Homo sapiens: one gene and its partner. The protein of the gene in region 1 interacts with the protein of each later gene in a pairwise test. Each region holds a gene or a part of one and is shown on either strand. Other genes may lie near its edges. The genes, in order: FBXW2 and GCM1.

Region 1 (12,649 bases):
TCTCTCGCCCCGGCTGGAGTGCAGTGGCGTGATCTCGGCTCACTGCAAGCTCCGCCTCCTGGGTTCACGCCATTCTCCTGCCTCAGCCTCCCGACTAGCTGGGACTACAGGCACCCACCACCATGCCAGGGGAATTTTTTGTATTTTTAGTAGAGATGGGGTTTCACTGTGTTAGCCAGGATGATCTCGATCTCCTGACCTCGTGATCCGGCCGAGCCCACCTCAGTCTCACAAAGTGCTGTGATTACAGGCGTGAGCCACTGTGCCCAGCCTGGTGTGTGTTTTTAATTGACCAGTATTAATTAACTAGCTATTGTGACAATATGCAGATGCCCACAGAAGATAATTGCTTTGTCTTGTTGCAAATTATTATTTTTTAGAAGTAGAGATTTTGAAGAAATGTTGTATAGATAAGAGGGTTGTTAGGATTTAGAGGAAGGAGGGGGCTTGTTATTGCGTGATAAGTCGATAAAACTTTTAGCCATCTGATTATTTTTTGTCAGCTAGGTAAATTTTTAATACAGATTAATAAATCTTCTCTAGCCCAAACTTTGGCTTGAAACGTATTATCTTGAAGTCTAGTCACAGTTCCAGAAATCAAAACTGTTAGCAGATGATGTGATTGCAAGGTTTGGTTGCTTCTACTAATAAATCAGATTGCTTATTTGTCTAAGAATGTTATTGCCAAATTTGATATTGGACACTTACAATTTTACTCACCTTACATTATCAAAGTTGAAAGATGAGATCTTGCTTTTTGTGTAGACCTGATCTAGGTGATATGTCTGGAAAGAAATTAACTTTCCTTTTTCACATTAATTTGGACATATGTTTTTAAAATTAATATGACAGTCTTGTGAGAAACTGAGTATTCAGAAGGAAAGTTTTTATTAAACCATGGAAATATTTAAATATATGGAAATAAAGAGAATAATAAATCCCTATGTACACATCACCCAGCATTAACATCTATCAACACATAGTCTTGAGAAAGATAGTTTTTACTGGTTATATTTTTTGTAATCTTTCATTAGTCTAATCCTCATTAAGAGTGAATTAACACCTGTTGACACTAATACAGGATACTTTAAAAAAAATTATTTGTTACAGTTAGCTCAGGAGCAATTTGTCATTCTCCTAAAGGAGAAAATGGTCTAACGGGTAGACACACTACCTCCAGATCTTACCACTTGGTCGTGGTTCTCCTGGTTGTCACTTATTTTAGAGAGAGAGCTTGGTACCTGATCTTGAGAGCACTGGCGTCCAGTCTGTTCTGTGGCTATTTAGTAGCCCTGTGAATATAGGCAAATCACATACCTTCTCTAACCTGTAGTTTCCTCATTTGCAAAGTGAAGATGATAATGTCTATTTTCTGGTGTTTTATAAACATCAGGATTATTAATTTGCTTTATTTGTGCAGGCCTCCAGGACCCCTCATGGCTCTCGGGGGCACGTGGTTAAGAGTTGTCACTAGCTCATATGAGGTTTAGAAAAACAGACTAAAGCCACATAAGTTCTTTTATAATTCATGTTCTAAACAGGCAGTGCCATAAAGAAGTTGGAAGAACCAGAATTCCTGAGGCAGATAACTTACCACACCTGCTTTTCTTCCCTAAACCTTTTCATCTGAACATCTGTTGCAAAACCAAGTAGTCAGTTCTATGATTTTGGTGACAGGTTGTGCCTGCCATGACAATCAGTGTCTCAGGTTACTGCTCAGGAGACTGTTTCTGATTGTCACATCCTGGTGCTTGCTTTTGTGATTTTAGTACCCAAATAGAATGTATTAAGGAATTCATTAAGGAAATTGTTTTATAATGGTTTTGATGGGGGAAGGGTGTATTGTAAAATATACTGTTTTATAATGAATTGTTGGTAAATCTATTACTATGAAGATGCATGTAGCACGTGCTAGACTTCAAGAGGAATAAGTCACACACGCCAGTCTGTTTCACTGACATGTTTTGGATTCATGATTTGTTAAAGTATGTTTTCTCAAATGTGTTTTCTTTTGTGTGCATGGAAAGTGTTCAGATAAATATGGTGTATTAACTGTAAAGTTGTAATGTAACTACGCATAAAGTTGTAATGGCAGATTTTTTACACTAATTTTTAATACTTCATTTGTTAGCAGTCTTGCTTGAACAGTCTTTTTGAGCAGAACTAATACAATATTTTGATGTGCCACAGGTAAATTTTTCCATAACCTTATGGAGAGAAAGGACTTTGAGACATGGCTTGATAACATTTCTGTTACATTTCTTTCTCTGACGGACTTGCAGAAAAATGAAACTCTGGATCACCTGATTAGTCTGAGTGGGGCAGTCCAGCTCAGGCATCTCTCCAATAACCTAGAGACTCTCCTCAAGCGGGACTTCCTCAAACTCCTTCCCCTGGAGCTCAGTTTTTATTTGTTAAAATGGCTCGATCCTCAGACTTTACTCACATGCTGCCTCGTCTCTAAACAGTGGAATAAGGTGATAAGTGCCTGTACAGAGGTGTGGCAGACTGCATGTAAAAATTTGGGCTGGCAGATAGATGATTCTGTTCAGGACGCTTTGCACTGGAAGAAGGTTTATTTGAAGGCTATTTTGAGAATGAAGCAACTGGAGGACCATGAAGCCTTTGAAACCTCGTCATTAATTGGACACAGTGCCAGAGTGTATGCACTTTACTACAAAGATGGACTTCTCTGTACAGGTAAGAGATGTTGAAACTGCTTTTTGGGTTTTGTTTTGTATTTCATAGGGTGTAATCTTGAACCAGTCTTGAGCTTTGAGAATGACAAGTGTTGATTATATGAGATATGTACAGTGACTTTTTTTCTCTAATCCTGAGTGGTTCCCCCCCCTTATCCTCTTCCTTCTCTCTAGAGAACACAATCATTTTTATAAAATTTTATGAGAAAAACACTTCAGACTGTCTTTTAAACATTATGTGAATTACAAAGCTATAGATTACTTTTTCTTTGTGTTTCCTCCATGTGTAGTCCTCTGTTGCTAAATTCTGTTTCTTTTTCTGTTGGCACTGATATTTGAGGAAAAAAACAGTGGAAAAATTGGTATCTAATCCTAGCAAGTAGTTAGATCATTATGGCCAAATTACTTAACCTCTCTGTATCTTTAAAATATGGGAAAGGAGGTCGGGCGCAGTGGCTCATGCCTGTAATTCTAGCACTTTGGGAAGCCGAGGCGGGTGGATTGCCTGAGCTCAGGAGTTCGAGACCAGACTGGTCAACATGGTGAAATCCCGTCTCTACTGAAATACGAAAAAGTAGCCGGGCGTGGCGGCATGCGCCTATAATCCCAGCTACTCGGGAGGCTGAAACAGGAGAATCGCTTGAACCCGGGAGGCGGAGGTTCCAGTGAGCTGAGATGGTGCCACTGCACTCCAGCCTGGGTGACAGAGTGAGACTCCATCTCAAAATAAATATATATGTATATATGAAAGGAGATATTTCTTCCTTGCTCTGAAATCCTGTGATTCTAAGTAGAAGAAGTAGAAGTTGGAGTTTGGGCCTGGGAACAGAGAGAGCTGGATATTTTTTAACTAGGCAATTAAGTAATTTTATGAAACAATATAATTATTAAAAATTTAAAATTATATGTTATTTTCCATTTGTAATGGACGTGTGTTTCTGTATATGATTATAACTAATGCCCATGTGTTAGATAATACATTTTGACAGGCAATGTAAATAATTCTTAGGCAGCATTTAGAATAACTCCAGGCAGTTCTTGCTAATAATCCCAATGCCTGTTTCCTTACATTGTATATAATATATAGAAATACTTGGTGTTCTTTTTCATCCAAGATAACTTCCAATAAACATTTGTGTATTACGGTATAAACTGTTCCTTTTTGTAAATATATCAATAGTCATTATTTAGCCATTTCCATATTAATGCATATATTAGTCCATTCTCAGACTGCTAAAAAAACTGCCTAAGACCGGGTAATTTATGAAGAAAAGAGGTTTAATTGACTCCTAGTTCCACATGGCTGGGGAGGCCTCAGGAAACTTACAATCATGTCAGAAGGCAATATGATCATGGCGGAAGGCGAAGGGGAAGCAAGCACCTTGTTCACAAGGCAGCAGGAGAGAGAGAGTGTGAGTGAAGCAGGAAGAGGCCCTTATAAAACCATCAGGTCTGGAGAGAACTCACTCACTATCATGAGAACAGCATGGGGGGCCACCCCCATGATCCAGTCACCTCCCACCAAGTCTGTCCCTCAATACCTGGGGATTACAGTTCAGGATGAGGTTTGGGTGAGGACACAAAGCTTAACCATATCAATGCATATTCAGATTGTTTCTGTTTTTATTAGTGTCTTTGTATTACCTCTTTTTCCCTTGAATTCATTTGGGATAGAAGTCTAAAAGTAGAATCACCAGATACAGAAGTATGAATTATTTTATAGCTCTTTTTTTTTTTTTTTTTTTTTTTTTGAGATGGAGTCTCACTCTGTCACCCAGGTTGGAGTGCAGTGGTGCAATCTCGGCTCACTGCAACCTCTGCCTCCAGGGTTCGAGTCTCCTGCCTCAGCCTCCCGAGTAGCTGGGATTACAGGTGTGCGCCACCACACCCGGCTAATTTTTTTTGTATTTTTAGTAGAGGCGGAGTTTCACCTTGTTGCCCAGGCTGGTCTCAAACTCCTGACCTCAGGTGATCCACCCTCCAAAGTGTTGGGATTACAGGCGTGAGCCACCGTGCCCGGCCCAATTTTATAGCTCTTCTTAGTGCCCTTTCCAGATAGATTGAATTGATGCCATACCAATATAGTGTTAAGTAACTTGCTTCTCCCTCAGGAGTCTCACCAGACTCAATTTAAATATTTTTAATGTTGAGATGTATCATTTCTCAAGACCGTTTTACAATGCATTTCTTTATTCATTAAGGGTATGTATTATGTGGTGATATTTTCTCTGAAATGCTAGACACTCTGCTGGTTTTGGAAAATAAACATTTGATTTAAAGCATTTCATGGTTTGGTTTGTCATCCTGAAGTTATTTCACACTTTATTTTCCTTGTGTTACAAGCCTGATTACTAGAACAACATCACCAGTTCTTCTAGGCTTTGATGTACTTTCTCTGTTGTGGTGATGGCTTTTCCATGTCTCTTTTGCCTCATGATTTTAAAAGATTAAGATGCAGTTGACCAAATGAGGGGGCTCATGCCTGTAGTCCCAACACTTTGGGAGGCCAAGGCAGGCAGATTATGTGAGCCCAGGAGTTTTGAGACCAGCCTGGGCAACATAGCAAAATCCCATCTCTACAAAAAAATAAAAAAACAGCTGGGTGTGCTGGCTCACACCTGTGGTCCCAACTACTTGGGAGACTGAGGTGAGAGGATCGCTTGAGCCCAGGAGGTGGAGGTTGCAGTGAGCTAAGATTGTGCCACTGCACTCCAGCCTGGGCAACACAGCAAAACCCTGTCTCAAAAAAAAAAAAAATATTAAGATGCAGTATCATCTTGGAGCTTGGAGCTCCTACTGGCAGTTGACCATTTTTTCACAACCACCTGTAGCATTTTTTTTTTTTTTTTTGAAACAGGAGCTCCTCTGTCACCCGGGCTAGAGTGCAGTGGCGCAGTCTCGGCTCACTGCAACCTCCTCCTCCTGGGTTCAAGCGATTCTCTCGCCTCAGCTTCCTCAGTAGCTGGCATTACAGGCACGCGCCACCACAGCCCGGCTAATTTTTGTATTTTTAGTAGAGAAGGGGTTTCACCATGTTGGTCAGGCTGGTCTCAAACTCCTGATCTCAGATGATCTGCCTGCCTCGGCCTCCCAAAGTGCTGGGATTACAGGTGTGAGGCACTGCACCCAGCCGCATTTTTTTTTTTTCTTTTTTGGAGACAACCTCTCACTGGGTAGCTCCATCCTGGAGTGCAATGATGTGATCTTGGCTTTCTTCAACCTCCACCTCCTGGGCTCAGGTGATCCTCCCATGTCAGCCTCCCGGGTTTAGCTGGGACTACAAGCGAGCAACCCTATGCCTGGATCCTTTTTGTATTTTTTGTAGAGACAGGATTTCACCATGTTGCCCAGGCTGGTCTCGAACTCCTGGGCTCAAGCACTCCGCCCGTCTCAGCCTCCCAAAATGCTAGGATTACTGGTGTGAGCCACTATGCCTAGGTCCTCTTGCTTTAAAAAGTTTTTTTCTTCTCTCATCAAACCTTATTTTTGAAATGTAGTAAAAACTGCAGTTACTTGGAGTGGAAGTAAATGGGAAATATTCACTGAATTCTCTAACTACCTGGAAAGTTAATATCTACAATTCTACATTTTAAGATTATTCTCTTGGTGGGTCTGTATGTTAATGTGATTTTTATTCTGATTAAATTCATCAGGTTTGCATATTTAAAATTACGCTGTGCAGTGGTTGAAAATGATCCAAAGTATTAGTTTAATTTTTCTAACAGCAGCATCCCTGGAACTGTGAAGAGAGGTATTTGTGACAGAATTGTACATGTGTTTGTGTCATCTTGTTACTTAAGAGATTGAATTCTCATTGTGGTGGAATTGGGAAACCCTGAATTTGGCAATAAACTTAGTGACTCTCACATTAGTGCCTTGAGTAAGCAATAGACAGTTTTATTGAAGAGATTAATGGCTAATGACATTGAGGTAGTTATCTTTCTCTTTCGCAATTTATTTCTGAAATGGTAAGAAAGGAATCTATTATGCTTTGTGCTGTTCAGTAGATATTTACTTATGGGATGCCTACTGTTTGAAAAACAATGTGAGGGCATACACGGATGAATTAGAGCAGTTTTTTCTTGTGGAACATACACACTGGGACCAGGAAGATGACCTGACTGAGGTAAAAGTCTCTGTGTGGACTATAGCAAATCAAGAACACTTGCCTTTCTAAAGAGTGCAGCTGGTGCTCCATTGTAATAAATTATTGCCATGTGGGTGGGATTCAGGGTCAGAGTTGTTAGATCTGACTTCAAGAGAAGCCTGAAATCTAGAGTTCTGTGCAATAGTCTGATTTTTTTTAAAGTATTATTAAGATTTTTAAGATACTGAATGGGGAGGGATTTTTTTCTTTCGTGCAGTGTGAGAGTCCACATTTCTTTAGTCCTCTTTCACCTCTATGCTGCATCACTGGTGACCTCTTTGAAAACATGTTGGGTTAGCCAGTGCAGCAAATGGGAGTCCAGAGGGGAGGCTGACATAAAGCCAGAAAGGAGCAGAGAACAGTGATTCCTAAAGGATTCTCAGGAGTAGACTTGCATCACTATAAATGGAACTCGACTCAACCTGATTATTATTATTTTTTTTTAGGGTGTAAAACTGGCACAATGTTTTCCTATAAAAACTAGTTTAAATAATTAGTTTGGATAACCTTTTTTTTTGCAAATTGTGCGAAAACATACATAACATAAAATTTACCATTTTAATCATTTTAAAGCATACAGTTGAGTGCCATTAAGTACATTACGTTGTTGTGCAGTCATCACCACTATCCATTTCCAGAACTTTACATCTTCCCAAACTAAAATGGTATCAGTTAAACACTATACAGTGTTAACTGTATAAACAGTATATAATACACTATATAGTTAAACTGTATCCAATTTTTTTGTTTGTTTTTGGGGGGGTTTTCTTTTGAGATAAGGTCTCACTCTGTAGCCCAGGTTGGAGTGGTTGGAGTACAGTGACATGATCTTGGCTCACTGTAACTTCTACCTCCTGGACTCAAGCGATTCTTCCACTTTGGCCTCCCAAGTAGCTGGGACTACGTGTGTGTGCCACCATGCCCAGCTAATTTTTGTATTTTTTATGGAGATGGGGTCTCACCATGTTTCCCAGGATGATCTCTAACTCCTGGGCTTAAGCACTCTTCTTGCCTCAGCTTCCTGAAGTGTTGGGATTACAGGCATGAGCCACCATGTCCAGCCTAAACCCTGTCAGTTAAACATTGCCCATGCCCCTTCCCCCACAGCCTGTGGCAAAACAACCATTCTGCTTGCTTGCTTGTTTTATTTTTTTTTTTGAGACAGAGTCTCAATTTGGTGCCCAGGCTGGAGTGCAGTGGCTCAATTTTGGCTCACTGCAACCTCACCTCCCAGGTTCAAGCGATTATCCTGCCTCAGCCTCCCGAGTAGCTGGGATTACAGGCATGCGCCACCGTGTCTGGCTAATTTTTGTATTTTTAGTACAGACGGGGTTTCAACGTGTTGGCCAGGCTGGTCTCAAACTCCTGACCTCAGGTGAACCAGCCTCGGCCTCCCAAAGTTCTGGGATTACAGGCATGAGCCACCATGCCTGGCCCACCATTCTACTTTCTATGAATTTGACTACTCTAGGAACCTAATATAAGTGGAATCATACAGTATTTGTTCTTTTGTGGCTGGCTTAGTTCACTTAGCATGATGTCTTCAAGGTTCTTCCATATCATAACATCTCAGAATTTTATTCTTTTTTTTTTTTTTTTGAGACGGAGTTTTGCACTTGTTGCCCAGGCTGGAGTGCAGTGGCGCCATCTTGGCTCACCGCAACCTCCGCCTCCCGGGTTCAAGCAATTCTTCTGTCTTAGCCTCCCAAGTAGCTGGGATTACAGGCGTGCGCCACCACGCCTGGCTAATTTTTGTATTTTTATTAGAGATGGGATTTCTCCACGTTGGTAAGGCAGGTCTCAAACTCCTGACCTCAGGTGATCCTCCCGCCTCGGCCTCCCAAAGTGTTGGGATTACAGGTGTGAGCCACCACACCCGGCCAATTTTATTCCTTTTTAAGGCTGAATAACTCCATTCCATGTATGTATATATGTGTGTGTGTGTATGTGTGTGTGTGTGTGTGTGTGTGTGTGTGTGTGTGTGTGTATGTATATAAAATATATTCCATGTATGTGTCACATTTTGTTTGTCCTCTCCCCTGGTTTTTAACTGCCTTCTTGCCTCTAGTTTTCCCCCCTTCAAACCTTTTTCCATGATATAGCCATAGTGATCTTTCTGATATGCAAATAAGGTCATAGTTAAACAACCTCCTAACCCAGTTCTGCAGCCAAACCTTGCCACTATTTCGCAGTCAGACTGAACTGTTTTCATAATCAGTGTTCATGTTTTAGGCAGTGCTTTTGACAAGCATTGTAAATAACTCCTAGACGGTTTTTTGAATGATTCCAAATAGTTCTTTATGACTTGATCCCAGTTCCTTTTCAATAATTTTTGTGTTGCATATAGAGATATTTAATAGTTGCTTTAATAGGTATATACCAGGGATTGGCAAACTGTGGACTGTGGGCCAAATCCAGCAGAAGAGAGTAATTGCAACTCAATAGGTCAACGTCTAAAATACTTACTATCAGGCCCTTTACAGAAAAAGTTTTGGTATATACTATTCCTTTTGTTTTGTTTTGGCCTGGCTAACTTATTCATCCTTAGGTTTAAATTAGTTAAAACTTAAAGGTTTTTTTTTTTTTGCCATGATATTCTTTCTTGAAACAGTCCTATACCAAAGCCCAGCTTAAAAACAAAAGAGGAGTGTAGTTGAAGAACCAATCATGCCAGTTCCTAAGGCACGTGTTATAGAGCATGGTCATAAATTCAGTGGAGCCTCGTCTGAGATGTTTTCTCTTCTTGTCCTCTCCTTGTATTTGCTATGGGCTTTTGTAGTGCCTGCCAGCTACTATACTGAATTATTATTGCTTGTTTAGCCTTTTTGTCTTCCCAAGTAGACTGAGTGCCATGAGAACAAGAATCCTGCCTGACACAGAAGTTCTATAAATATATGTTGAATGAATGAATGAGACCCCAGTTGAACACTGGTAACCAAAACCAAGCTCATAAAGGACCTAAAATGATTTCCTTTCCTACTCTAGCTCCTTAGGAATACAGTCACAACATGCCTGAACTGAAGGCCTTAAAGACTATCTAGGCTTACGCTCTCCGGTACAGTAGCCACTAGCGCCATGTGGTTTTTGAGTACTTGAGCTGTGGCTAGTCCAAATGGAGGTGTGAAATACTGGGTTTCAAAGACATACAATGTAAAAGAATATAAAATATCTCAATATTTGTATTGATTACATGTTCAAATGACATTTTTGACATACTGAGTTAAACACATTTAATTATTTTAACACATTTTCTTTTTTTTTTTTTTTTGAAACAGAGTCTTCCTCTGTTGCCCAGGCTGGAGTGCAGTGGTGTGATCTTGGCTCACTACAACCTCCTCCCGGGTTCAAGTGATTCTCCTGCCTCAGCCTCCTGAGTAGCTGGGACTACAGGCGTACGCCATCATGCCTGGCTAATTTTTGTATTTTTTTTAGTGGAGACAGGGTTTCACCATGTTGGCTAACATTTCTTTTTTTTTTTTTTTTCTTTGAGGTGGAGGCCCTCTGTAGTCCAAGCTGGAATGCAGTGGCGTGATCTCAGCTCATTGCAACCTCTGCCTCCCCAGCTCAAGCGATTCTCATGCCTCAGCCTTCCGAGTAGCTGGGAATATAGGCGCGCCATCATGCCCGGCTGATTTTTTTTATTTTAGTAGAGACAGGGTTTCGCGATGGTCTTGAACTCCTGAGCTCAGGCAATATGCCTGCCTTGGCCTCCTAAAGTGCTGAGATTACAGGCATGAGCCACTGCGCCCGGCCCAACATTTCTTTTTTAATGTAACTATTAGGACATTTTAAATTATATCTGCAGTTTGCATTATATTTTCTGTTGGATAGCACCGTTCTAGACCATTGGCTCTCAAAATATTGCTGATGAGTTAGAATCACCTGGCAAACTTTTAAGATTATTGGACCCTGCCTCAGATGTTCCCCAAGTTAAACTCTCTGAAAATAGGGACCTGCCTGTGTGTTTTGATAAAGTTGTATCACATGGCCATTGAGAACCAACCAAGTCCTACCCCTCTTTTTATACAGAAGGAAACAGTCTAAATAGCAAAGTGACAATAAATACAGTCTTTATTTCAGTATGCTATCATAGTTTTCCCAGGTTAAAATTCATACTCTAGCTCTTTCATAAGTGATGGCTATTTTTCCATTGTCTCAAACAGTGGTTCTTGACTGAAGGTAGAATTGTGGCTGGCTTTAGTCATTTCAGCTTTTTAAAAACTGGTCATTTGGTGCTTTCCTAGGATACTGTGCCATTATCATAGTGACTGTATTTAGTGGATTCTCAAAAATGTCTTTTTATTTGTTGAGGCTTATTGAAGGGTCATTGTAAGAATGAATTAATCATTAGGATTTTAAACTTAAAGCAAAGTCCTGAATTGTCACCATGATTAGTATAGAATTTTCATCAGAGGCAGAAATAAAGCCAACTTTTCCCTTCAGAATCTTAAGAGGCTTTACAAACTTTTTGTTGAGTTGTGAATATCTGGGGATAATTTATCCCAGGTTTTCCTTGAGGTTTCTTCCTTCACGTATTTCAAGATGACTGGAGCAATTAGCAGTTAGCTTTTGCAGAAGTTAGCCCAGGCTCTGAGGTTTGTCCTTGACTTGCCTTAGAGTGGAATATATTTCAGCAAACACCTTTACTATTTAACAATCCTTATTTGTTCAGAACTGTTGGGTAATGGACAAGCATGCAAGTGTAAACATGCAGTCATGTGTAATACCTATTTATTTGAAGTCAAATCAGAGAGCTCGTGATAGCCAAGGATTTATGAAATTTTTCAAGTGGAAGCACCAAGGGATGCTTTTAGTCTAATGACCTTCTGTAGCCTGAAAAGTTAAGGGAAAGTGTCTCACCCAAAAAGCTTGGATTCTGTCCTAGTGCTTTTGACTCCGTTTTGGTGACTCTAAGCAAGTTGTGTTACTCTCTCCGTGCTTTGATTTCTTCAGTGGTAAAGTAAAGTGCTAGAGGAAGGGACCGTTAATGTTCTTGAAGAACACCATGATTTTGGGATTGATTTTCCTTCTTTAGTGTGTTTGTTTTCTTATTAACCTCCCTGTTTTTCTCTTGAAGGGTCAGATGACTTGTCTGCAAAGCTGTGGGATGTGAGCACAGGGCAGTGCGTTTATGGCATCCAGACCCACACTTGTGCAGCGGTGAAGTTTGATGAACAGAAGCTTGTGACAGGCTCCTTTGACAACACTGTGGCTTGCTGGGAATGGAGTTCCGGAGCCAGGACCCAGCACTTTCGGGGGCACACGGGGGCGGGTGGGTTGCCCTTTTTCAAGGGTTTTTACAACTTAGCCTCATCCTTTTAAGCCAGGAGCCAAGAATGTGAAATGCTTTTTTTTTTTTAATTTAACCTGCTTTTTTCAACCCTCTTTCTTAGTCATTGCAGTTATTTCCCTTTATTCTAGTTACTCTTATTTCGAATGTTTTACCCAGTTTTGCTTTTTCTTGCTTTCTTCTATGTGTGTACCCTTCTGGTGGGAAGGGTAGTTTTCATTCTCTCTCTGTTTCTCTCTCTCTCTCTCATTCTCTCTCTCCCCCCTCCTGTTTCATTTATATCCTATTGAACAGACAGTCCCTTGGCTTTTATCAGATTCCATACCTCTGAACTGAGTAAATCCTACTTGTGTAAATTCCACTTTATTTGTAGCATTAGGGCTGAAAGTTCTTTGGTGTGACGGTGGTTCTTAGATTGTGTGGTCTACACAGATTACATCCAGTTTGAGCTTGGTTGACAGTTGATTAAAACAAGCTACCACCTAGAGATAAGGCGAAAGAAACATACCTGAA
Region 2 (16,364 bases), on another chromosome or scaffold:
AGGCTTACTTTTATCATAAAGTACTTCAGCAAAGAAGAGAAACTGGCATTCAAACATGGCCGGCCAATCATTGCCAGGCTAATTGCACAAGAGCTTCTCCAAGCAAATATTTCTCACCTATTACAAACCCCACATTGATATAGGTGCCACAAATAATAAATGGGATAAAACAGAAGCCCCTGTGCAAGGGGAAGTCAGTGAGGAAGAGGGAAGGAAACAAGAGGCAAGGAGACCACGCACATCACTAGTGTTTCTCTTCATATGGCAATTTAACATTGCTGTTCTTTGTCTTTATGAAAAATGGGGTTAGGTCAGGTTCCTTGTCATCACAAGTCTCAGAAATCATCTAGAAAACATATATTTTACACACTAGTCTCACAACTAGACAACATATTCAGTACTTCAGTGGTAGAATCTTCAGCTTTTCACACCTTAGGCAGTTCTTCCACCATCTATTTCTGTTTCTTCATTCTCAGTTCCCAAGAAGGCATAGATCAGGTCCTAGATAGGTTAGCATTTCACATGTCTACTCCATTTCATTTGCAACAATGACAATGAAAACCCAGCATGCAATGTGGCTGAGGTGCTGGGAACCCCAAACAATGTGGGGGAAAAAGCAGAGGGCACTTCACACCCCAGACGGGACAGGTTTCCATTCCTTACTGAGGGTGGAAATACTAGAGTGGAGGAGAAGAAGCCAAAAAAATTACTCATGTGAAGAAAAAAGCCTTGTCAGCCGGGCACAATGGCTCACGCCTGTAATCCCAGCACTTTGGGATGGTGAGGTGGGCAGATCACTTGAGATCAGGAGTTTGAGAGCAGCCTGACCAACATGGCAAAACCCTGTCTCTACTAAAAATAGAAAAATTAGCCAGGCGCAGTGGCAGGTGCCTGTAATCCCAGCTACTCGGGAGGCTGACGCAGGAGAATCACTCAAACCCGGGAGGCAGAGGTTGCAGTGAGCCGAGATGGCGCCACTGCATTCCTGCCTGGGCAAAAGAGCAAGACTCTGTCTCAAAAAAAAAAAAAAAAAAAAAAAAAGAAGGAAAAAAGAAAAAGAAAAAAGCCTTGTCTACTGCTTATCATGATTCTCATTTATCTGTGGTTATGTTTTAAAAATTATTTCCTAAGGAAATTCTTTCAGCCCTTCCCCATTTTTGAGGGGCTGGGGTGCACATAGTGAAAGATTTGGGTCATCTCAAAGGACACAGGTTCAGAAGCATATCATTGTTGCAGTGATCCAAACCCAAGTATGTCATTTCTTCCTCAAAATCCCATTTGCTGCTCTTGCTTGGCAGTGAATATTGCTGATGAGGATGAGAGGCGTAGGTGAAGAGAAAGGGGTCTTCTTGAGGTGAATGGTATGCAGGAGACTGGACGTAGCTGTTAAAATCCACATGTACTTTCTCTTCATAAAGATTACCCGCTGGATTTGGCCATAATGGGGGACAGCCAGTTTTGGCTGCAGGTGGCTCCAATGGAAGCTGCTGGTAAAAGGGTTCTGAAGAGTTTTGGGAAGGAGAGAAGCTGCAAGGCCAGCTGGTCAGAGGAAAAGGATAATTGGAATAACAGTTGTCAGCAAGATGATTTCTCCCCAAAGCAGCATTTTTACTCCACGCTTGTAGATCGCCATGATCAGAGTAGACTCCGGAGGCAGAAGGAGGAAGCAGGTCTCCACTACTGTAGGTTCTGCTACTGGACAATTTGCGCTTTTCATAGAGCTTCATGGGGTCCACAGTGGAAGTCTGGTCAGTCAGATCTGTGATTCCTCCCAGACCATAACTCTTGGAGAAGGAAAAGCAATCATTTAGTGAGTTCTGCTGAGGAGTGTTAGCTATTAAATGTCCACTGTAACTACCAGGCAATTGGACGCCTTCCTGGAAAGACCAAGTTAAAGGTAAACTCCCCTGACTTTGTGTTTCACCTGGAAGAGACTGGAAAGGAAAGTGAAATGCTCGTGTTAATAAGTTAAGCAAATCAAAACCACTGCCATAGGCACCCATGAGTTACTCTGTACAAATAAGAGCTCCATCAGATTTTCCTCATTCCTTACACATTAATACTTGACGCACAAACACATGCAGCGGCTTGACCACAACCACGAAACACTTGAAAAAAGCAAAGGCTGCCTCTGTTTCCATGTTAAAGCTTGCTAACCAGTAAGAGCCAAATTTCCCTACATTCAGTAGAGACATGAGTGTGTTTAAGATGTTTCACACTCAAACACAAATCTGATATCCTAATTGCTTTTTATTTATTCTTTTTTTTTTTTTTTTGAGATGGAGTCTCGCTCTGTTGCCCAGCCAGGCTGGAGCGCAGTGGCACGATCTTGGCTCACTGCAACCTCTGCCTCCCGGGTTCAAGCAATTCTCATGTCTCAGCCTCTCAATAGCTGGGATTACAGGCGCCTGCCACCACGCCCAGCTAATTTTTGTATTTTCAGTAGAGATGGGGTTTTGCCATGTTGGCCAGGCTGGTCTCGAACTCCTGACCTCAAGTGACCCACCTGCCTTGGCCTCCCAAAGTGCTGGGATTAGAGGCATAAGCCACAGTGCCTGGCCTCTAATTGCCTTTTTGAGAAACTTATAAGGAACTATTTACAAAATATCAAAGTATAACTTCAAAGATTTATATTATACTCAGCACAACTCCCAGGGTCTCTGTCTCTCAACATTTCCTCCCTTGACTATTCTATTTCTTAGTGCTGGTTGGAGTGTGAGAGACCATGGTTGCTATTGTTTTTTAGTTTTTCCTTTCCTCAAGAGATTTTTCTTTGAATTCGTGGGAATTTTGTTGAACCATAAATCAGACCTCTAGAACACGAGTGGTACATTCATTTATTTTTCTAAATGGAGGAGGTATATTGTTCTTTAGTTAATCGTTAAAAAAAGGATCTGGTTGAGAATTAAGTTATGCTCTTGTTTAGGTAAAACTACTAGCTGTTAAGGGGATACTTTTAGGGGGTAGAGAAAAAGGGCTGTGACCAGGTAGATTGGATGAGAGACTGAAATGCCACTTGACTTGTCCCATGGCTGGGAGAAAGGATGAGGAAATAGCCATTTGGGTTTGGGGGGCTTGCATTTCCCTACAACAGATCCACATTACAATTTTTTTAAATAAAGTACATTTACAGCCTCTAGGGATGGACCAGTTCCATCTCTGTTCTCCCAAAAAGAAATGTGCACCTTTGAACAGTAGAAAAAGTATAGGAACTACTATCAATATTAAACAGACAAATGCAAAAAAACCTATGATCTGCTGCCCATAAAGCAGTGGACTTCACATCACAGTTTGTCTATAGGGAGTAGCCTCCACTCCACTATTGCCACCCTGGGACAGCTATCATTTTCGGAAACTGCTTGCTTATTTCATCTTGGTAGAGTGTGCTAAGAAAACAATCTGTTTGGGGACGTATGGAAATTCAGGAGGGCGGGGAGGGGGCAGGCGGTGAAATGCATAAGGCTACTATTTTGTGGAGATTGTTTCAATTGTTTTTGGTTCTTGCCAAATATAAGTTAAGTGCTAATTCAAGTTTCTCTTTGTAATTGTAGTAGGGAAGATGATTCTCCAATTACATGGACTTTATGGTTCCCAGCATGCTACAAAGATGGTAGAAAGTAAGAGTAAAGCCTCAGATTTAATTTCTTTAGCAGATGCTTGTTTGTAGATGAGCCTGATAATCCATGATTTCTGGCTTTCCTGCGTCAGCAAGGGACCCAGGAAATCTACCGCCCCCAGCACAGGCGTGGCAAGCTACTGCATGTATTGAACATACATAATGAAGGATTACCCTGGTCTCTGTGCTCCCCTTCAGGCTCAATGAGACGGAGGAAGGTGCTGTGTTCACTTTCTTCATGGCTCTTCTTGCCTCAGCTTCTAACTTGGTTTCTGGTTTTGGATGATCATGCTCTCCCTTTGACTTAAATGAGACAAGGAAGTAGAAAGGAAATGATATAACACTAACTAGACTGTGTTTCATGGTGTATCAGTTTTTATTTACTGTGTGTCCTGCCCCGGGGGTGGTGTTGCAGTTGCCTATGGTAACCAGACTGGATGAACCTCTGAAGGCGCTCCCAAGCCCACCATGCTCCTGCCTGCCTGCCTCTCACCCACCCAGCAAAGCCATAATCACAGTGCTAAGTAACACTTACTAAATGCTTCCTGTGGTATGTGCCAGACACAAATAAACACCCTGTGTGCCTTATATCTCATTTCATCTTCAGCACAACCATTGAGGTACACACCATTATTATCACCCCCAGTTTACAGAACAGGAAACTGAGGCATGGAGTGATTACGCCAGCTGGGTAACCTCCTCTAGAAGTGAGGGACCTAGGATTCCCCTACCTGGAGCTGGCCAAAGCTGAGAGTCAATAGTTAAACATTCAGGAATTTTGTAGGCTGATTGTTAAAAATGACTGCTGGCTTGAAATCAGCCACGGTGAGAATATTTCCATTACAGAAGTTGGCAAATGCTACAAATCAGGACATTTTCTTTTTGGAGAGCTGGTTTACCAGCATCCCACTAATTCAAACCCAGGCAGTCTGAGTCAGGGTCCATTCTTCACCACTGTTGGTGCCACTGCCCCATTAGTACTCTTACACATTCTACAGAAAACTGGGACGTGGAAGAGGAAAATCACCTGCTCAGGTTTAAAGACCGAGTAAAAAGTCAGAGCTGGTGTTCAAACTCAGATTTGCTGAAGGCTACCAGCAGCATGCAGCATGCGGCATGCTTAGAAGCACTGTGCTAACCTCAGTGTGACTAGATTAGCTGCCACTTCTCCTGAGAAGTAGAAGCAGAGACAGGCAGCTCCCCTTCTAGAGCTCCCCAGCACTTCAAACATCTATTAGAAGTGCAGGGGACAGATACTTGCTCTCTTAGAGTGTGAGCCCTCGGGGATGGTGCAGGATCTCATTCACAGGTGCATTTCTAGCCTCTGGTGAAACTCCTCAGTAATGAAACTCTCACGTAACTAACTCAAAAATCCAACCTGGAAAAATATAAAGCGTCCGTCGTGCCTCCAGAAGTTGGTGACCGGGAAGCCCCCATGACCTCGGCAAGGGATGAGCTTCAGAGGCCCGTCACAGTTGGGACAGCGTTTCCCTACAAAAGAGCAGAGGAAAATGACCACACCTGGCTGAACCATGTCGGTTGTTGACTCCTGTGCAGTCTTGAAGATTTTAGCCCTGACTCAAGGACGGCAGAGTATAAATCTGGGCAGAGTTTCATGGGCTGAAATCCACTAGATATTACCCCTGACCCTCAGAAGCCTGGCCACTAAAATGGCCCACATGGGTCTCACACATGGATAGGGGAAGTGGTTGCCTACCAAGTAGGATATTTCACAGGTCAAGGCAGAGCTCTTCTGAGCAGAAAACCCCTCCCTACTTATTTAGTGATATTTGAAATTCTGACCAGGCACAGTGGCTCACACCCATAATCCCAGCACTTTGGGAGGCCAAGGCAGGCGGATCCACTTGAGGCCAGAAGCTCGAGACTAGCCTGGCCAATATGGTGAAATCCCATCTCTACTAAAAATACAAAAATTAGCTGGGCGTGGTGGTGCACACCTGTAGTCCCAGCTACTAGGGAGGCTGAGGCAGGAGAATCGCTTGAACCTGGGAGGTGGAGGTTGCAGTGAGCCGAGATGGCACCAATGCATGCCAGCTTGGGTGACAGAGTGAAAGTCTGTCTCAAAAATAAAAAAGAGAAGTTCTTTCACTTCACAATTAGAACTAAGGGTCAAGGGGCCAAGCTACATGGGAGAGTGAATGCAGCTACTACATTTTCACAGAGGTGTAAATGACTGATACCAGGTCCTGACCTAAGAGCAAGTTTTTAAAACAAACTACTGGGAAAAATATAAAGTAACTTGAGGTTTGAAGTGGGCAATGTACAGGGCATGCTGAATGTATCTATTTCATAATCCAGTGAATGTGTTTTAGAAAATGAACAAATATCTCAGCACGTGATTATGATGTGAACCTAAATGAATGGAATTGAGTCTAACCTTTCACAGCTGCCACTCCACATTAATGCACACATTGAGATCACTTAGGGACCCACAAGAAGTCCAGTGGCAAGTCCAATAAACTACTTTCTTCTAAATTTTACATGGGTCATTGATGAATTAACATTAACCCCTGAAGGGATACATTTTTCCTTTTATTTTTGGATGGAGTCTGTCACCCAGGCTGGAGTGCAGTGGCACAACATTGGCCCACTGCAACCTCCACCTTCTGGGTTCGAGTGATTCTCCTGCCTCAGCCTCCCGAGTAGCTGGGATTACAGGCACACACCACCACACCCGGCAAATGTGTGTGTGTGTGTGTGTGTGTGTGTGTTTGTGTGTTTTAGTAGAGATGGGTCTTCACCATATTGGGCAGGCTGGTCTTGAACTCCTGACCTCAGGTGATCTGCCTACCTCAGCCTCCCAAAGTGCTGGGATTGTAGGCATGAGCCACAGTGCCCGGCCATTTTTCCTTTCTTTTTGGAGATAGGATCTCACTCTATTGTGCGGCCTGGAGTGCAGTGGCTCCATTATGGCTCACTGCAGCCTTGACTTTCCAGGCTGAAGCAATCCTTCTGCCTCAGCCTCTGGAGTAGCTGTGACCACAGGCATATGCAACCACACCCGACTAATTTTTAAATTTTTTTGTAGGGGTTGGGGTCTTCTTATGTTGCCCCGGCTGGTCTGGAACACCTGGCCTCAATTTATCCTCTCATCTTGGCCTCCCAAAGTGCTGAGATTACAGGTGTGAGCCACCACACCTGCCATCTTCCCTTTAACAGGAGCCTTCAGTCCAGTGCCTTAACCCAAGGAGGCATTTTTGATGGTGGGTGCTCTGGGTATGGCAGATATGTGGGGTCCTTGCTGGAGCACAAGGGATCTGGTTGGTTCCGCTCCATATGCTCCATGTCAGAACAGCCTTGGCTGCCACTACACTCCAGGGTGATGGTTTTGCCCTTGGGCGGTGCTGGGACACAGTGACCCATCTGGCAGGGGCATCTGAGGGATGCCAGCTTTTTTGCTGGTGCCACTAAGCTCTACTCACGCTGCTGCTTCTGCCGGGCCTTGTCACAGATGGCAGGTCTCAGGTAGATCTTGCGCCCCTCCTCTGCGAGACAGTCGCGGCCGCACACCACCACACCCAGGCAGGACTTCTTGAGGATGCGGGAGTTGTGGTTGTTGGTATTGCGCATGGCCCAGCTGCTCAGGTGCCGCTGCGCATTCTTGTCCTCCGAGCTGTAGATGTGTTTGGCATAGGAATCTGGCCACTCCTGGAACCAGTCGGTTTTTTTCACGTTCTGATAGAAACACAAAAGATACGACTATACTTTAAGCTAGAAAACACAGCTGTCACCCACTGTGGAGTGAGTAGATAGGAAGGATGTTTTGGCATTCAGGAGCTGGGCAAGAGACCTTTGGCAAAAGCCTCCCTACATTTAATTCTGACAGTGGGATCAGCGAGCCCAGCACAACAGTGGCAACTGAGTGCTGTGTCTGTCAGGCATTCAGCCGCTGGACCAAAATAAATGATAGCCCCTGTGAGTTCCATCTGATTGACACTTCCCTAGCCCTCAGTGACACAAGAAATGACCATTTCTCAGTAGGAATTTTTGAAGGTTAAGTAATGCTATGCTCTTACACAATAACTATAGAAAACAGGGCCCAGTGTGGTAGGGTGTGCCTGCAGTCCTAGCAACTCAGGAGGCTGAGGTGGGAGGATGGCTTGAGGCCAGGGGTTCAAGACCAGCCTGGGCAACACAGCAAGACCCCTTCTCTAAAAACTCAAAATAAACTGTGGAAAACATTGTGGCGGGATAGTGAGATAATGTCTCGTACCACTCTGTGGTTATCTTACTGGGAGTCACACAGGTTTATGCAATGTCGCCAGAGATAAGCAGTGGGAGGGATGAAAAGCCCTGGTTCAGAGAGATCAAAGAGCCACTTTCTTCCCCAGAGATTTTCTTCCTTTATCTTTAACCCTACGTTCACGTGCCTCAAACATGACAAGGGAGTAAGAAAGAGCTTGTTTTGACTGAAAGCGTCTCTGTTATTGCCCAGGATTGGCGCTATGCCCTGTGTATGAACATTTGACTAAACTCTCCTTTAAAACATCACAGACAAGGAGAGTTGTCATTCAACGGACAAAGTTTCCATTTGCAAGATGAAAAGGTTCTAGAGCTCCTTTGCACAACAGTGTACATATAGTTACCACGACTGTACTATGCACTTAAACATGGTTAAGATGGTAAATTTTAAGTTGTGTTTTTGACCAAAATAAAATAATAATTAAAGAAAGGCCAGGGACACCAGACACTCAGTCCTTATAGCATACATTATTTTGCTCTCTGTGCCTCTGTTTCTTCATCTGTAATGTAGGGATAATGAGACCTGCCTACCTGAAGAGTTGTTCTGAAGATTAAATATGATTATATATATTAAATACTTAGCACAGCACCTAGCATGCTGTAAGCTCTAAATAATTGTTAGTCACTGATGCTGTGGCTCATATTCCTAGGCCCTACATTGGTGCACAGATGCTGCATTTGACAGACCCTTCCTTGTTCTTAGAATGAGAAACAGCAAGCAGTGTCAGCACTCAAACTTAGGCTGTGCCCATGCCCTACGGCTTTCAGAGACTTAGCATGGTGTAAGAACATTTTTCATCTAGACGGTTCTAGAAGGTGAAAATAGAAGATTCTAGAAGGTCCAGAAGAAAAGACTAGGCTGCTTCTTCTTTGCTTTCCCAACCAGAAAGCACAGCCCACAACATAAAAAAAAGACAAATTTTAGAAGAAAAAAGTAAATGTCAGTGTCAGGATTGACGGGCATTTACTGAGTTAGAATTCAAATTTAGAACGTGCCAAAGAACTTTGTAACTTGAGACTCTGGGCAAGTAACTTTGTCTTTAAAGCCTGTTTTGCTCTTCTCTAAAACTGAAACATTGATTAAAACTGCCTCACAAAAGTGCTGTGAAGAGCAGATGTGTTGTAAACTATAGATTCCATATAACGATACTTGTTGAATGGAATGTCATGGGGCCTGAGGTGGTCTGAGGAAATATAAATGAGAGGTTTTAGGTACATGCAGGGTAGTACTGTTTAGTGGTTAAGAGCTGCAGTGTGCAAACTAGGGCCCATGGGCCAAATCCTGCCCATTGCCTGCTTTTGTAAATAAAGTTTTATAGGAACACATCTATGTTCATTAACTGAAGTGTTGTCTATGGATGTTTTTACACCACCGCAGCAGAGACTGTATGGCCCACAAAGACTACAATATTTACTATCTGACTCTTCACAAACAGTCTGAGATTGCTGGCTGTAAGCTTGGACTCTGGAGGTACACTGTCTTTCTGGATATGAGTCTTAATGACATTCTTTTCTTCTCAGTGCCTCTGTTTCCTGCTCTGTAAAATGGGGTAACAGGAGTACCCCACAGGGAGGTTTTGAGGACTTACTAAATTAACATACACAATGCACTTAAAATAGTGCCTCACACGCAGCAGGTTCCACCTCAATGTTAACTGTTATTCTACCAGATCTGGAACTGCCCTCAGCCAGTCAATGTGGTTGTAAGAGTCACTGGCTTTTGGGAGAGAGAAGACCCAGTAGAGGTCACTTCATGCTTCATACCTTGCCAAGCCAAATGCAAGATAAGAGTCCAAGTCCCAGCTGGGTGCAGTGGCTCACACCTGTAATCCCAGCACGTTGGGAGGCTGAGGCAGGTGGATCACCTGAGGTCAGGAGTTCGAGACCAGCCTGCCCAACATGGCAAAACCCCGTCTCTACTAAAAATACAAAAAATTAGCCAGGTGTGGTGGCGGGCACCAGTAATCCTTGCTTCTTGGGAGGCCGAGACAGGAGAATCTCTTGAACCTGGGAGGTGGAGGTTGCAGTGAGCCAAGATCATGCCACTGCACTCCAGCCTGGGCGACAAGAGTGAAACTCTGTTTCAATAAAAAAAAAAAGAAAAAAGAGTCCAAGTCCCTATAAAATAAAAGCTTAATTGGTGCACCTCTTGTTCCACAACCTTCCTTCTCAGGGCATGACAGTGGCTAGCCCTTTGTGTGCTATGCTGTAACTACTGTGGTTTGGGAAGGGGGAAGGGTATAAATAATAGGAGGGTGGCATCTGGAAAAGTTCCCTGTGGTCCATCAGGCAGCTGCAGCAGAGATTCCCGGATGGCCAGGCCAGGATGCTGGTTGGACCATTTGCTTTTTCCAGACTGTCCCTCTCCTCCCCAATTCTCTGGTAATTTTGGGCTTGCTGAGACTCAATGCCCGGGGTGAGAGAAGCTCCCCAGGCAGCATGCCTCCTGCTCTCTCCACCCACCTTCTCTTCCCTTCCTTCCTTCCTTCTTCTGGCCCAAAGCTGCAAACAATGATGTCTTGTTTTCTGTCACAGAAATGCCATAGAAAGCATAATAGAGTATTTTATCTTTTGAAATAATAATGTAGGTTAAAACATTAAAATGTCTACTTTTGGCCAGGAATAGCGGCTCACACCTGTAATCCCAGCACTTTGGGAGGCCAAGGCTGGAGGATTGCTTGAGTCCAGGAGTTCAAGACCAGCCTGGGCAACACAGTGAGACCACGTCTCTACTAAAAAAACAAAACAAAACAAAATTTGAGTGTACTTTCCTCTAATATTGGACTGTAAAAAACTACTGGTGCACTTGAATTATTCCAGTATAAAACACAGTTGTCAGGATAGCAGAGATGAGGGCAAGGTAGACTTAGAGGAAAGCTGAGATTTTCATGCTTTAAAGGTGAGTGGCCACTTTAGGCTGGTCAGAGCCATAGATCCCATGAACCAGAAGGAGCGGAATGTATTTGTGAGAACATCTCAGATGTTCTGATTAAAGCAAAGACTCCTTGCCTGTAGAGGAAGAGATGATCTTTATCATCCTTTAAGCTTTTTTCTGACAGTCCCTCCACTGGTACCTTAGTTTTCCAGTTCTATTAATAATGCAGTAATGGCCAGGTGCAGTGGCTCACCCCTGTAATCCCAGCACTTTGGGAGGCCAAGGTGGGTGGATCACTTGAAGCCAGGAGTTCAAGACCAGACTGGCTAACATGGCGAAACCCCATCTCTATCAAAAATACAAAAATTAGCCAGGCATGGTGGCACATGCCTGTTATCCCAGTTACTCAGGAGGCTGAGGCAAAAGAATCGCTTGAACCTGGGAGGCAGAGATTGCAGTGAGCCGAGATCATGCCGCTGCACTCCAGCTTGGGTGACAGAGTGCTTTGTCTCAAAAAAAAAAAAAAAAAAAAAGCAGTAATAATTTGGACAACGTATGGACTGAGAACATTACTAGGAGTAAATATACTCACATCAAGCTAGTCTCTGGGCCATTTATTCATGCCTAGTCTTTGACCTGGACATTTAGTAGGGTCTTTGATGTCTTTTTACACTGAAATTAAGAGAAAACCCAGATCTCAATAATGCAGAGGAACCCAAGTGTCAGATGGATGACTGTGATTTCTGAAACCTGTTAAACCAAGACCTCAGAGAAGTAAAATTTAATAAGAAACAATAATCATTTCTTCATCATGTTTAGCGAATCCCCACAAAATACTTTCTTCTTTTTAGATCCTTTGTTTGTTTTAATTTCTAACTTTTCATGAGTAACTCTTTGTTTTTCCTCTTAGTTAAGAAGTTTATAATTGAAAGGGAATATTTCTGAGGTTTCCAACATGTAGACCTAGCTAATTTGTATTTGATTATCTCCTGGGTAACATCACTGGGGGGTTAACTGATATTTCTATGACTTCTGGGTATAATTTTTTACTAACAGATTTAATCCTCTAACTCAATCAAAATTTTTGTAGCTCTATGCACTTCTAGAACACCCTTCATACTCACCTCATTCTAACTTATTCAACTACTTGAAGTTTTCAGAGGTTATCTGAAGAAATGAAGTATGTATTGTTATATAAAACTAATCAATTAAAATACAAATTCTGAAATAAAGTATCAAAAATATCTACATTATCATATGATCATATTATGAAATTGATTTTCTTTTGGAATATAGTCTGCTCTTGCATAAAGTAAATATCTTCCAGGTTTTCATTAATTATATAAATAGCTTATTCATTACTTATAAATAAATATTTCTAAATAGAACAGGAATATCAAACAAACATACTTTAAAGCAAATTATATAGAGGTACAAAAATCAGATATTATGGAAAACAGGAAAAAAAACCTTCAACCAATGTTTTGATTTACATACAACTTTTCAGGAACTTATCTCTTCTGGGCCAACTGGAAATAAAACTCCAAGTGTTACCAAGGAAAAAAATTGAATTCAACAAAATGCTTTTGTGTTTGTTCAAGAATTACTCCTTAGGGCAGGCATGGTGGGGAATGTCTGTAATCCCAGCTACCCAGTAGGCTAAGGCAGAAGGTTGCTTGAGCTCGGGAGTTCAAGACCAGCCTAGGCAAGATAGTAAGACCCCCATCTCAAAAAAAAAAAAAAAAAAAAAGGGGGAATTACTGATTACTCTTTAGACTAATCCTGGTATTTCTTAGTCAAGAGATCAAGACTCAGGACAGGCCAGGCGCGGTGGCTCAGGCCTGTAATCCCGGCACTTTGGGAAGCTGAGGTGGGCAGATCACGAGGTCAGGAGATCAAGAACATCCTGATCTTGAAACCCCATCTCTACTAAAAATACCAAAAATTAGCCAGCCATGGTGGCACATGCCTGTAGTCCCAGCTACACGGGAGGCTGAGACAGGAGAATCGCTTGAACCCGGGAGGCAGAGGTTGCAGTGAGCTGGGATCACACCATTGCACTCCAGCCTGGGCGACAGAGTGAGACTCCGTCTAAAAAAATAAATAAATAAATAAAATAAGACTCAGGACAAAGTTCCTTATTTACTCTGAAAACACTAAGTTATGCCAAGTTACCTCAGCTTTCAAACCCCGTCTGTCTTCTCTTTTCGCTTCCCTTTTCCCTCCACCCAGCTAAGCAAGGGACCTGCTGCAGGGTACCAGCAGATGCAATAATGCTCCTATCTGTATCACACCAGAAGCACAGAGTGGCAGAAGAATTCTGGTCCAAATAGCAGAGGCCCCAGTGATCATGGGAGCCCATATAGGTAGAGCTCTCAGGGAAGTTCAAATGACCCTTGAGGTCAAGGAGAATGTCTGGCAAAGGGGGCAAAGTCACAGGAATCCCCATCAGAACAATGACAACGTGACCTGCTCATACAGGGGATAATAATTGACAAGAAATCCACAATCTGGTTTACCTGTTAGCTCCCTAGCACCAAGACACATCTGAGTACTACAACTGGCTTGTTCTGATTACATGTGGCCACATGGATTCACAGAGAGAGCTCAAATATTCATGTTTGATCACAATTTGGGGCTTATCTTTTGCAGAGACAAAGGAAGTTTGGCTGGCTAAAATCATAGTCCAGGAATGAACTAATCAGAACTGTGGCCCCTTTGCAGTTGACTTTACTATTCTATACTAGAGAATGTTCTCTCTACCAAAAAAAAAAAAAAAAAGTACTTAAACCTTGTAATTTTGTGAGTTAATGGCTTGGGGTGGCTTTGGCCATGGGTTTAATTTGCAAACTGCTCAGTGTGTAGGAACAAAATGATCCAGGGTGTTTGCTGGCTGTGGTGCTATTGGCACAACCTGAACTGAGAGAAACTGGCTGGTATTTGAAACAGAGTGGATATTCTCCTCTTGCTAGTGAAATGGGTACTATTTAAGAGAAAAAGGAACTGAATTTCTTCCCAATTTTCAACCAGAAGAAAATAATTCTTAGAGATTCAAAGTTCTCTCAAGTATTACAATCAGTACTAATGAGAGTGTGACACTCTCCAGGACCATGTAATCCACATTTTAAATCAAGACTAAATCAACACCAGACTTTTGCTGCTTGGATCAAGCAAACCTTAAAGCAATTAGATTTCACCTTTCCAAGTACAAATAATGACATAAATAATAGATGGTTGATCTAATTTTTTTTTCCTCTAACCTTACACAAACTCTTCTGGCCTTGCTCCCCATGCCAGAGTCATGTTGAACTGCACACTCCTTTCAAACTCCTCTAGCATTTTTCTACATGGCATTGATTCTCTATTTAGGCAGTAATCTTGTTCCACTAGCCCAGAAGATCATGAGCATTTCCACAGAAGTTAACATAGCTTAATGGCCCCAGTATCCCTGAGCCTACTACAGTGTCTCCTGCATTTAAGTTTCTCAAAAATGTCTGATATCTTAGTAAGGACATCACTGCTCACTGTTGTCAAAATTAACCCATAAACCTTGATGTATCTGAACTAGTTAAAGACACATGGAGTTTCTCAGACCAGAAGATGCAACTGGTATTTGGGTAATCATTTTGAAACTTGAAGGGCCGGGTGCGGTGGCTCACACCTGTAATCCCAGCACTTTGGGAGGCCAAGGTGGGTGGATCACGAGGTCGGGAGATCGAGACCATCCTGGCTAACACGGTGAAACCCTGTCTCTACTAAAAATACAAAAAATTAGCCGGACACGGTGGCAGGTGCAAGTAGTCCCAGCTACTTGGGAGGCTGAGGCAGGAGAATGGTGTGAACCCGGGAGGTGGAGCTTGCAGTGAGCCGAGATAGTGCTACTGCACTCCAGCCTGGGCAGCAGAGCGAGACTCTGTCTGAAAAAGAAAGAAAGAAAGAAAGAAAGAAACTTGAAGCCCGGGTGCAATGGTTCATGCCTGTGATCCTAGTATTTTGGGAGGCCAAGGTGGGCAGAACTCTTGAGTCCTGGGGTTCGAGACCAGCCTGGGCAACATGGCAAAACCCCATCTCTACTAAAAAGACAAATAATTAGTTGGGTGTGGGGTGCACGCCTGTAGTCCCCACTATTCTAGAGGCTGGGTTGAGAGAATCACCTAAGCCCGGGAATTCAAGGCTGTGGTGAGCTATGATTGCGCCACTGCACTCCAGCTTGGGTAATGAGAGTGAGACCCTGAAAAAAAAAAAAAAAAAAAAAAAAAAAAAAAAAAAAAAAAACAGAAAGAAAAAGAAAGAAAGAAGGAAGGAAGGAGAGAGAAAGAAACTTGAAACTTGAAGCATGTGAAAGGATAAACAGAAAAGGAATTTTCCTACGTGTTGTATAACTAATAATTCTGGCAAGAATATAAAATTATGAAATATAAACTATAAATGATCTAGATCGATGGGACAGAGAGTGAAATTAGAGAAATTTATAATCATAACAAGCCATTGCATTTGATCCTTTAAACCACATTTGTTAAATGCCAAAAAAGGTAGTCTGGGGAACATCAACCCCTGAAGGGCTTCAGGAAAAAAGTTTCATGGTCAAAAATAAGTTGGGGTAATACTGCCTAATACAGCCTCCTTCGGAGAGCCACCAATGCACAGGATGGTGAAAAAGACTCCAAGCCTGCAGTCAAGAAATCTGTTTATCCTTGTTGAACTTCGTATTGCTCTTTTTCTTTCTTCACAGTACCTATTAAAATTCCATGTAACTTGTACTCTACAGAATATATTTAGGGAACACTATTCTAAACATCTTAGAGACTGAGGCAGGATATGTGGAGAATTCCTATTTTCATTCTACAGGAGGTAACTAAGACTTAAGAAAATCAATTTCTCCAGGCTCACACAGATTCTAAACAATGGAGCCATTCATTAATGAATTCCATATTCAACATTTGTTGTTTCATACACGTCAGGCACTGTGCTAGGCACAAGGCTGACATTTCTAGAATTCTAGACTATTAGAACTAATAGGTACATACCAGACCATTTGGCGCAACCCCCTCATTTTCAGAGAGGAAAGGAAGTTTCAGAAAAGGTAAACAACTCAAGGATCTCCAAAAAAAAAAAAAAAAAAAAAAAAAAAAAAAAAGGAGATGGAACTAGAATTCAAATCTGGGGCATTTTTCTCCAAGTCCTGTACTTTTCATAATACACCCCTCTGTCTCTGGATATGCTCACACAATATAAACAATATAAAATCTAATGTCTGGAAATCTTTCCAAGAGCTCAAGTGTTTCTTGGTCTGATGACAAAGCTAGCATTAAACCCAGACGAGGATGGTATTCTCTCTACTCAGAAAATACTAAGGAATATTTGCATTTTAAATCATTTCCCCGACATATTTAACAAATTGGAAGACAGCTATTTCCGTGAGCAATCTTAGTACTTTTTAATGAACTATAAATACATTTCTAAAACCAAATGTGCATTTTTTGCTATACATTTCTCAGTTTAATGTCATGGGTAGCTGCAAACACTTTCATTTTTGGAAATTCATGTTGGAACATGAACTTTTATGAGCCTCAAGTTTCCCTATAGGAAAGAGGTCTTCATCTCTTGTTT

Evidence for each region.
Region 2: the proteins of FBXW2 (region 1) and GCM1 interact in binary tests that used the Homo sapiens proteins (3 or more experiments, as listed by UniProt).

Annotation. Positions count from the first base shown.
Region 1 is NC_000009.12:120,777,820-120,790,468, reverse strand, and holds part of FBXW2 (F-box/WD repeat-containing protein 2), read left to right. Parts: intron 1-2,190; coding exon of another isoform or gene 2,191-2,210; coding exon 2,211-2,700; intron 2,701-11,923; coding exon 11,924-12,118; intron 12,119-12,649. UniProt on the Homo sapiens protein: Substrate-recognition component of the SCF (SKP1-CUL1-F-box protein)-type E3 ubiquitin ligase complex.
Region 2 is NC_000006.12:53,127,013-53,143,376, forward strand, and holds part of GCM1 (chorion-specific transcription factor GCMa), read right to left. Parts: intron 7,313-16,364; coding exon 7,060-7,312; intron 5,108-7,059; coding exon 4,995-5,107; intron 3,920-4,994; coding exon 3,791-3,919; intron 1,935-3,790; coding exon 1,194-1,934; 3' UTR 1-1,193. UniProt on the Homo sapiens protein: Transcription factor involved in the control of expression of placental growth factor (PGF) and other placenta-specific genes. Binds to the trophoblast-specific element 2 (TSE2) of the aromatase gene enhancer. Binds to the SYDE1 promoter.